Linked DNA regions of Homo sapiens: region 1 is linked to region 2. The links come from fine-mapping of genetic effects on gene expression. A gene starts in region 2. The other region holds a variant in brackets. All regions are shown on one strand. Distances are from middle to middle.

Region 1 (5,379 bases), 200 kb before region 2:
GTAAAGGACCTGAAACGGGGTGGGGATGCAGTAAAGGAGAAGGTAAGGGGAGTTAATTAGCCGGTGATTAAATGTCATTTTCCCTGAGTCAAGTGATTCTCATTTTATTCAAGTGCTCTGGAAGTGGTGAAGGTTTTTTGTTTTTTGTTTTTTGTCATTTTAGGGAATTCTTTTTTGTCCAACAAATAATTCTCAGTTGTCTGCTTTTAAAAGTACTGTGTAATTTCTAAATTACTATTTTTCAAAATCAGGCTAACACTTCCAACTCCCTCTGGTTGGGGTTTTCTGAATCATCTACAGAAAGATGGCTGCTCTGCTGAGAGCCTGCCTGGGAAACTGGTTTGTATATCCTGTGACCCAAAGCATCCACTTCCTCAAAGGTGTAGCCAGGAGGCTCAGGATATGAAGCTAGGCACCTGCCCATTTCCTTGGGAGTAAAGCTGATGGTGTAGGTGGTCTGGCTTTCCACAGGGACATTTCCTCGAGGGCCAGACCAATGAGGCTTACAGCTTTTGGTATTGATAGGCAGGTGGGGCACATAGTGGGCCCGAGTGGTGGTCAGGCAGTCCAGGGGCTCGGTGGGCAAGTCCAGCTGGGGAACGGGCTTGACTGGCTCTGTGCGCATGCTGGACCACTGCTTGTAGTCATCCTTGGTGGTGGAAGAGCCTTCAAAGCGACCGCACTTCTTAATCTGAAGTGCAGGTCGGCAGGACTGAGCTGGGGCACCCTTAGGGCATGTGTAATGGGCCTGCACTGTTGTCAGAAGATCCATCCTGTCTTCGGGAGGGACGTAGGTGATGGGAGCTTTGGAGAACATCCGGGGCATTGGCCAAGCTTGGTACTTATCTCGAAACTCAGTGGTGTTACAGAAAGGCATGTCTAGCCCAGGAGGCCTGGCTAGAGGTTTCAAGCTCTTGGCAGGCTCCCCCATCAGGCCCCGGTAGGATTGTTTTTGAGTGGTAAGGCTTTCAAAGGGGATTTCACAGGGCCTGAACTTCTCTGCTTCATGCACAAAGCGCTTCTCCACGGGGTGGGCCACATAGCTCATCTTGTAGTTAGTCACATCCTCCAAGGGGATGTTACAGAGCTTTGGCATGGCCAGAGGTTTACAGCTTATGGTCTTCACAAGGCCTTTTATGGGGTAATCGTCCTGGTGTGTGGTTCTGTTATCAAACCTGACTGATGCCGGCTGGTATTTGTGTTCCAGACGAAGTGGCTCTCGCCTTGGTTGGTTCCAAGGCAAATAATCAGCTGAAATTAAAGCAGAAGAGGTAATTAATAATAAATCAAGTCAACCAACTTGCATATATTCTACAGAGCCCCAAGGTCTTAAGGCAGTCTCCGATGAAGTGTTCTTTGAGACAAAGAAAGAACAGAGCACATCCCTGCTACCACTTCATTCAAACACCTGATGTGTCAACTTTATGGTACTTGCAGGCAGAAGAGACAAATCTACAGGAGCTCTCATCACACCCCACAATACTGCATGCAGGGATCTTAGAGGGTCCATGGTCGTGAGAGGATCCAGGGAATCCATTCCTGCAGAAAAGTTCAACCACTAGCTTACTCTGACAACACTTCCTTTCTTCTGTGGAGAAGGTACTTTCTCTGAATCAGCATGGAAGGAGTGAGAAGATGCATGTGATGTAGTGAGATAGAAAATTCACAACCCACCACTGGTGGGCCACCAGCCAGATGAACCAGGCCTACCTGGTCGTCTGTGGAGTGACAGCCCACTGTGTCCCTGTAATCCTCACATGTAATCCACATAAATCAAATATGCTGCTCCAAGGGAATAGGGCATTGTATTGGGTGGTGAGAGAACAGTGGCTGCCACTTATATAAAACTTATTACATAACAGGCAGTATTCTAAGTGCTGTATATATTAACTCACTTAATCTTCAGACTGTCCTAATAAGGTGGGTACTATTAATGCCAGTTTTATAGATGCAGAAACAGATATACAGAAAATGAGGGAATTTGTCCCAGCTCACTTGGCTAGAAGTGGAAAAGCACAAATGCAAATTCAGACCCAGAGCCCACGATCTGACCCACTCTACTCTCTGGTTCTAACAGTTAGGGAATACCAACTACATGTCGGTCAATTGTGCTCAAGTCTTTCCATACATGATCTTGTTTCATCTTCACAATAACCCTTTGTGATGGGTATGATTCTCTCCATTCTACAGATTTCTAAATACAAGGCTCAGAGGAGCTAAGAAACTTGCCCAAAAGTCACATGGCTAGTGAGGTGAGTTGGAATTTAAACCGTATTGTTGTCTCCAAAGCCATGTTCTTCTGATACCTCATATCACACTTAGGGGCATTTTATTTCCAGATGGAGTAAAGGTTAAAGAAAAAAATAATCAGAGGGAAGATTTTCAGGAGGAAAAGAACTTCAGAATGTTTGAAGAATGAGAAGAACTGGCCAATCTAGATGTCCATCTCCAGAGGAACCTCTGCTGTGGGGCTGGAATGGCCAACATAATGGGAGGCCTGGACCCCAAGGAAATCTGCAGTAGAGATGGCCTCCATGCATCTTGAGGACCAGATACTGTCTTCAGGCAGCACTGTAAGCCTTTGAAACTGGCTTTGCCACACAGACCATCAGGGCCAGCACACCAAGACTGAAAGTCTAGGTGAGAAAAATGGGATGACAAACCATGTGATTCAACTGCCTTGGCACTGCTGGAACTTTTTTTTTTTTATTTGAGATGGAGTTTCACTCTTGTTGCCCAGGCTGGAGTGCAATGGCACAATCTCAGCTCACCGCAACCTCCACCTCCCAGGTTCAAGCGATTCTCCTGCCTCAGCCTCCCTAGTAGCTGGGATTACAGGCATGTGCCACCGCACCCGGCTAATTTTGTATTTTTAGTAGAGACGGTGTTTCTCCGTGTTGGTCAGGCTGGTCTCGAACTCCCGACCTCAGGTAATCCGCCCACCTCGGCCTCCCAAAGTGCTGGGATCACAGGCGTGAGCCACCACGCCCGGCCTACTGCTGGCATTCTTTCAAAATACTTGACTAACATCCAAGACCTAGGTTGCCCCATCAGGCCCATAAATTACCA[G/A]ATTTAAATTAGCCCTAGTGAGCCCTCTGAATCTATAGGGAATTCTCTTGCTTACTGCTGTACGAAAGGTTAGAAAAAAAAGCTGCTTCCCAGGAGCCTTGGGTATACACACCAACACTAGTGGAGTCCGCAGGCACAATTTGTAACAGTTTTATTGAAATCTAATTTGCATAATAAAAGGTACCATCTGAAGTACACAATTTAGTGACTTTTATGGAGTTGTATATCCATCACCAAAATCAAGTTATAGAGTATTTGCATCATGCCAAAAATACCAATTATCTTCATTTGTAGTCAGTCTTTACTCCCATCTCCAGCCCCAGGCAACCATTAATTTGCTCTTGGTCTCTATAACTGCGCATTTTTTGGACATTTCATATAAATAGAATCACCCAATATGTAGCGTTTTGCATCTGGCTTCTTTCACTTAGTGTAATGTAATTGAGGTTCATCCATAATGTAGCCTGTATCAGTAGTTCACCTTTTTATTGTTGAATAATATTATATGATACCAAATTTTGTTTATCATTCACCAATTGATGGACATTTTGAGTTGTTTCTACTCCTTGGCTATTATAAAGAAATTCTGCTATGAGCCTTTGTGAAGAAGTCTGTGTGTGAACATATATTTTCATTTCTCTTGGGTAGATAATAAAGTGAAATTGCTAGGTTGTATAGAAAAATCTATCTTTAGCTTTTTAAAAAAGATACTGCCAAATGTTCTCAAAGTGGAGAAGTAGATGTGCCATTTTACATCCCACCAGCAACGTATAAACATTCTCATTTCTCCACATCCTTGTCAATATTTGTTATCATCTGTGTTTTTAAATTATTATAGACATTCCAATGGGTATTTAGTAGTATCTTGCAGTGTCATTTACATTTCTCTAATGACTAATGATGTTGAGTATCTCTGCATGCACTTATCCGCTCTTCATGTGCTTTCATTGGTAAAATATTGAGATGTTTTGCCCATTTTAAAATTAGATTGTCTTCTTATTGAGTTATAGAATTCTTTGCATGTTCTAAATACAAATCTTACACCAGGTATGTGATTTACAAATTTTTTTCCAAGTCTATCACTTCTCTTTTCATTTTCTTATTATTTTAACAAAACACCCACCTGACACCTGACTCTTTTCATTTCTTAATGGTGTCTTTCTAAGTGCCCAAAGGTTTTGAATTGCGATAAAGTCCTATTTATATCTTTAATAAATCATGCTTTTGATGCCATGTCTAAATTCTTTGCCTGTCCCAAGATATCATAGATTTTTCTCCCATGTTTTATTTTGAAACATTTATAGTTTTAGCTATTACATTTAGGTTTCTGACTCTTTTGAGTTTGGATGCGGTAACTTCGTCTTTTTGCATGTGGATATCCAACTGTCCCAGCACCATTCATCAAAAAGACTATCCTCTCCCACACTGAAGTGCCTAGGCATCTTTGTGAGAAGTTAACGACAATAGACATAAAGGCTTATTTCTGTACTCTCAACTTAGTTGCATTGGTCATTATACTTGTCTTTGTGTCAGTATAACTGTCTCAATTGCTGTAGCTTTATAATAAAGTTTTGTAATCAGGAAGTGTAAGTTTTACAACTTAGTTCTTATTTTTCAAAAATACTTTCAGCTATTCTGGTTTATTTGGATTTCATATATAAAACCTAAAATTACTTTGCCAAGTTCTAAAAAGGAAAAGGAGCCTTCTGAGATTTTGATAGGAATTGCATTGAATCTACAGATCAATTTGGGACAACTTTACCTTAATAGTATTGAACCTTCCAATCCATGAACACAGAATGTCCATCATTTTTGTTCAGATTTTAATTTCTCCCAGCAATCGTTGGTAGCTTTCAGCATGCAAGACTTACACTTGCTTTTTTAAAATTTTATTCCAAGATTTTATTAATTTTGAGGCTATTAAAAAGAGAACAGTTTTCTTGACTCCATTTTGATTGTCCATGCTAGAATACAGAAACAACTGATTTTTATATATTGTTCAGTACTGACATCTCGCTGAACTCATGTATTAGTTCTGGTAATTTTTTGGATTCCTTGGTGTTATCTGCATACAGGATCATGTTGTCTGAGAATAAAGACAGCTTCGCATTTTCCTTTTGAGCCTAGATACATTTACTTGTCTGCTTGCTTTTCTTGCATTATTGCACTAGCTAGAACCTCCAATACAATATTGAGTGGAAGTGGTGAAAGCTGACATCCTAGCCTTGTTCTCAATCTTAGGGGGAAGCCATTTAGTCTTTCACATTAAGTATGATGTTTTAGAAGTACAGATTTTTTTTGTGAATGCCC
Region 2 (5,379 bases):
ATAAAGACAAAGTAGATGAGTAGCTGCCTCAGGGTGGTTGTTAGGAAATGGGGAGTGACTACTAAGTATGAGAGTATGAGATTTCTCATGGAGTATGACATTTCTATTCTTTATTTCGGTAAAATATACATAACAAATTTCACCATTTCAACCATTTTTAACTGTGCAATTCAGTGGCATTAAGTCCATTTACAACATTATACAACCATCACCACTATCCATTTCTAAAACTCATTCATGGCCAGGCATGGTGGCTCACACCTGTAGTCCTAGCACTTTGGGAGGCCGAGGCGGGCGGATCACCTGGGGTCAGGAGTTCCTGACCAGCCTGGCCAACATGGCAAAACCCTGTCTCTACTAAAAATACAAAATTAGCTGGGCATGGTGGTGTATGCCTGTAATCCCAACTACTCAGGGAGCTGAGGCAGGACAATCACCTGAGCCCGAGAGGCAGAGACTGCAGTGAGCAGTCTCAAATTCCAGGCCTCAAGCGATCCTCCCATCTAGACCTCCCAAAGTGCTAGGATTACAGGTGCAGGCCACCGTGCCCATCCTCTGGGGGATTTTTAATTAAAGGATCATAAACATCTGCCAAAGCTATGAAACAGGCCTTCTGTGGACAGGCGCGGTGGCTCACGCCTGTAATCCCAGCACTTTGGGAGGCAGAGGTGGGTGGATCACAAAGTCAGGAGTTAAGCCTGGCCAATATTGTGAAACCGCGTCTCTACTAAAAATACAAAAATTAGCTGGGCATGGTGGTGGGAGCCTGTAGTCCCAGCTACTCGGGAGGCTGAGGCAGGAGAATCACTTGAACCCAGCAGGCAGAGGTTGCAGTGAGCCAAGACTGCGCCACTGAACTCCAGCCTGAGTGATAGAGTGAGACTCCATCTCAAAAAAAAAAAAAAAGGAAAGAAAAGAAAAGAAACAGTCCTCTTACGGTAATGAGGGTCACCTGAAAGTTTCTAGGTAAAGGCAGTGTATGCCCCAGGAAGGGCTGAGGAGTTCCAGATGTTACTGCTGTGAGCTCAGGGGCTCGCCACTGACCAGTCCCTTGACTTGCATCTTGAAAAATCAGAACTCACTTTGCGGCTCTAGCTTCTGGATGATGGGCAGAGCACTGGTCATGGCCACGGAGGTGATGGTCTTCACACCGTTCTCTGCCATCTCACACACAGACTTCAGGTAGGGATACTGGTCCTTTGTACTGAGATAGGCTGAGGACATGAGGTCATACGTGGAGCTCACCAAGGGCAGGTTGACCACCCGAGTCACCACACTCTGCAATCAAAGTAGGGAGGGTATGCTTATTAATCTCTCAAAACACAAAAGGAGAGAAAGTAGACAAAGGCTACTCAAAATTCATACCGGTTGTGGATCAACTGCAACGGATGCCATTTTTCTTCCTGGAGAAAGAAATCTGCAGAAAAGAGACTTATTTCAGAACACCGGGATAAGACTCTCCCAAATTCATTCCCCAACCCAAGCAAATGCTGATTACAAGTAGAGAAAAATGCAGGGTGAGCTCCCTGTAGTCTTCTGCACTTCTTTCCTCTCTCCAGCTCTCCAGGTCCCCCTCCTGAAAGACCCACACCCACACAACCCCACTCCCTCTTTTGAGGCAAAGTTTCAGAGCTTATGTGTAAACTTGCAATACTCAGGAGGGAGAAGTAAAGTTGTTGACATACTTCTCTTGTTTCTCCGAGTATCTGTTAACAAAAATGCTAGCCAAGCCGGACGCGGTGGCTCACGCCTGTAATCCCAGCACTTTGGGAGGCCGAGGGGGGTGGACTGCTTGATGTCAGGAGTTCAAGACCAGCCTGACCAACGTGGTGAAACCCCGTCTCTTCTAAAAATACAAAAATTAGCCGGGCGTGGTGGCGGGCGCCTGTTATCCCAGCTGCTCTGGAGGCTGAGGCAGGAGAATCGCTTGAACCCGGGAGGCGGAGGTTGCAGTGAGCCTAGATGGCGTCACTGCACTCCAGCCTGGGCGACAGAGCGAGACTCCGTCAAAAAAAAAATGCGGTTTTCTAACGCGTTTCCCTTTCGATAATGTCCCTTCGACAAATATTGTTTTCCCACAACCACCCAAGCAGGCCAAGGGACATTCGATAGCAATCGCCCTAAATCTGTTGGCAGGAAAGAAGCCTCAACGCACAAAGGCAAGGGTCGAAAGCGCGGGTTCAGCAGACCGCCCCTACCCAGCCAGGACCTGGAAGCCGCGAGGCGAGCGGGGGGTCTCGGACCATCACCCCCGCGTCCCGTCCACCTTTGAGCCCCGCGGGGAGCAGAGCAGCGGTCCCAAGGCCCCGGGGAGCCCCCCACCCCAACTGGGCGCCGCTGGGGGCCCGGGACCGGTTCGCTGGGGCACCCACTGGGCGCGCACTCACCGACGGACTGCAGCGAAAGGCGAAGAGCAGGCGCGTCCCGAAGACGACTCCGGCTGCCACGACCCGGTCAAAGCGTGGGGCCCGCGGGCGCCCGGGCTATAAACCCCGCCTCGCCGCCCCTCCCCAAGCCTCCGCAGCACGTGACCCGCGGCAGCACGCCCTGTCCCAAGCCCGAGTGTCACCCTCGGGCACGTCCCGGCGCCCTCCCCCAACGCCGGCCCTCCTAGAGTGGTGGGGGCCCGGTCGGGTTGAGAGGGTGTGCTGCCTGGGCGAGGGGCCCCGCCACGGGGAGAGGAGCCTGTCGGGAGCCGGGCGGGGGCCCGGCCTGGGGAGGCTGGGAGTTGGAGGTAGCCCTGCCTGGAGTCGGGGCGCTGCCTGGAGTCGGGGCGCTGCCTGTGGTCGGGGTCCTGCCTGTGGTCGGGGTCCTGAGAGGCCCGGGGCAAATGGGGATGGCGCCCAGGCCGGCTTTGGGGTTTTGAAAAATGCAAACAAATTCACACCAACTTGTTGAACGGCGTTAGTCCTCAGAATAGAACTCTAAAAATGGAAGCGGTGGCTCACGCCTGTAATCACAACACTTTGGGATGCTGAGGCGAGAGGATCTGTCGAGCCTAGGAGTTCGAGACCAGCCTGGCGAAGATTTTTATTTTATTTTAAAAAATAGCCCAGCGTGGTGTCGTGCGCCTGTGGCCCCAGCTACCTGCGAGGCTAAGATGGGAGGATCGCTTGAGCCTGGGAGGTCGAGGCTGCAGTGAGCCGAGATCGCGTGGCGCTGCACAATGGCTTCTACGCTGTTATTTTTAGCGAAGTAATAACTTTTAAAAGTTTTGTGGCGGCTGGGCGCGGTGGCTCACGCCTGTAATCCTAGCACTTTGGGAGGCCGAGGCGAGCGAATCACCAGCCTGGCCAACATGGCGAAACCCCGTCTCTCTCAAAATACAAAGAAAGCAGCCCAGCGTGGTGGCGCGCGCCTGTAGTCCCAGCTAGTCCCGGCTGTTTAGCGGGGTTGGGGGCAGGCGGGTGGGTGGCTGAGGTGAAAGAATCTTTTGAGCCCAGGTGGTCGAGGCTGCAATGAGTCGAGATCGCGCCACTGTACCACTGCACCCCAGCCTGAGTGACTGAGACCCTGTCTAAAAAAAAAAAAAGAAAAGAAAAAAGAAAAAGAAAACAAAAAACTTAACTCCAGATCACTCCAGAATGACAGCTGCCTAGGGTTATGTGACATAGGCAACTTTATACGTGCAGGGTTATGCATTGTTTTTCAAAGACAACTTAAAACGTCATCTGAGTCCCAGTTGTGTTTTTTTGTTGTTGTTGTTTTGTTTGTTTGTTTCTTGTGTAAAACGCACAGATTTGGAACGAGATTATTTGAGCAGACAAGTTGCGCCAGCGCCCGAGGCCAGATAGGGCTCGTGGGACTTCTTCCCCCGTGAGTGGCGGGGGATTTCCAGATGAAGCTGTCCGGCCTCGGCCCCCACTCCCCCCCCCCGGCCCCCGACACAGCTCGCAGGGAGGATACAGCAGAGAGGAGGGTTGGGAGGTGGGAAGGGAGCAGGCGCTGGCGCCGCGGGTCCGCCCCCTGAGAGGCCCACAGCGTTGGAGTCCCTGGCTCCAGCCAGGAGGGACTGGCTTTGTGAAGCTTTGGAGTTGTAACTGTAGGAAGCTCTCAGAGACTTTTACCCCAATTTGTTTTCATTTTCTGTTGTTGTTGTTGTTGTTGTTGTTTTTTGAGACGGAGTCTCGCTCTGTCGCCAGGCTGGAGTGCAGTGGCGCGATCTTGGCTCACTGCAACCCCAGCCTCCCGGGTTCAAGTGATTCTCTTGCCTCAGCCTCCCGAGTAGCTGGGACTACAAGCGCGGGCCACCACGCCCAGCTAATTTTTGTATTTTTAGTAGAGACGGGGTTTCACCATGTTGGCCAGGATGGTCTCGATCGCTTGACCTCGTGATCCGCCCGCCTTGGCCTCCCAAAGTGCTGGGATTACAGGCGTGAGCCACCGCACTCGGTCTAACCCAGTTTCTTAACCAATCTTGCATGCACACAGATACTGTTGATCATATTTAAAGCTCCAAACGGACCCATTAAAATGGTATCCCTTATCCCATTATACCTGAATATATAATAGTACTTACTTAGCAAGAAAAATTAAAGTATTTTTACCCCTCCTCCCCACATGTAATTCAAAATAAAATACTAAGCCATAAATACTGAACCATAAAATGTTATGAAGTCCAAAAATGTTCTGGTTTGGGTTTTTTCCTATGTTGCCATCTTCAGTGTTTTAAGTAATTAAATTATTATGTTTTTCTTTTCTTTTTCGTGTTCCGGCGCTGTTTGTTCCCTAAGCAAATGTTTGCTCTGCTTATTGATAATCCATCCCTGCTCTAATGACCTCTTACTTTGCATCAGAAGACTCTCGCCCTTTCACCTACAAAATGCCTCCATCTTTTCCTTTTTTGTTTTAAACCTGTGAGTCATTTCCTCACTTAAGGCTGAGCAAGCTTCTTTTTGCTTTTATTTGCCTGTGAAGCAGAGGGCCCCAGGGAATAATTTTGGGAACAAGAGACTCTTCAAGCCCACAAAGGATGAAGCACATCAAATTCTGCATCCCCAACTGTTTTTCAGCTTCGTGAGTCTGAGAACATGAAACCAGTGGCAAGAATAACACCCAAGGTGAGATGTGTAGTGAAGGAAACCAAAAAATTTTACCCCAAAATATACTTCTTTCACATATTTTGAGATATGGCTGTTCAGAGGACCTGCAGGCGGAAGTAGTCCTACGAAGCTGTTTGGTGTGTGTGTGTGTGTGTGTGTGTGTGTGTGTGTGTGTGTGTGTGTGTGTGAGAGAGGCTTGCAATATACAGAGAAAATCTGCATTGATGCAGCCAGGTGCTCTCTGAGGTTTTCCCTCGTCCAGATATAGGAAAGGTTAATGGACAGTCTGACACCTTTAAAGGTCTGAAAGAAACATCAACCATCTATTCTTTCCAAT

The links. PIP is the estimated chance that this variant, and not a neighbour inherited with it, causes the effect.
Region 1: its variant is fine-mapped to the expression of PLIN2 in blood mononuclear cells (TOPMed, PIP 0.97).

Annotation. Positions count from the first base shown.
Region 1 is chr9:18,927,805-18,933,183 of GRCh38, forward strand. SAXO1 (stabilizer of axonemal microtubules 1) reads right to left here. Exons shown (of 4, transcript NM_153707.4): 4 at 1-1,251. The coding sequence ends at 248. Among named protein-coding and RNA genes, the nearest start is that of SAXO1, 100 kb to the right of the region's middle. The variant G/A (reference allele first, on the strand shown) is at 3,070.
Region 2 is chr9:19,125,032-19,130,410 of GRCh38, forward strand. PLIN2 (perilipin 2) reads right to left here and starts at 2,461. Exons shown (of 8, transcript NM_001122.4): 1 at 2,388-2,461; 2 at 1,366-1,417; 3 at 1,083-1,278. The coding sequence starts at 1,395. RefSeq lists enhancers at 1,707-2,217, 2,218-2,727 and a silencer at 2,240-2,799.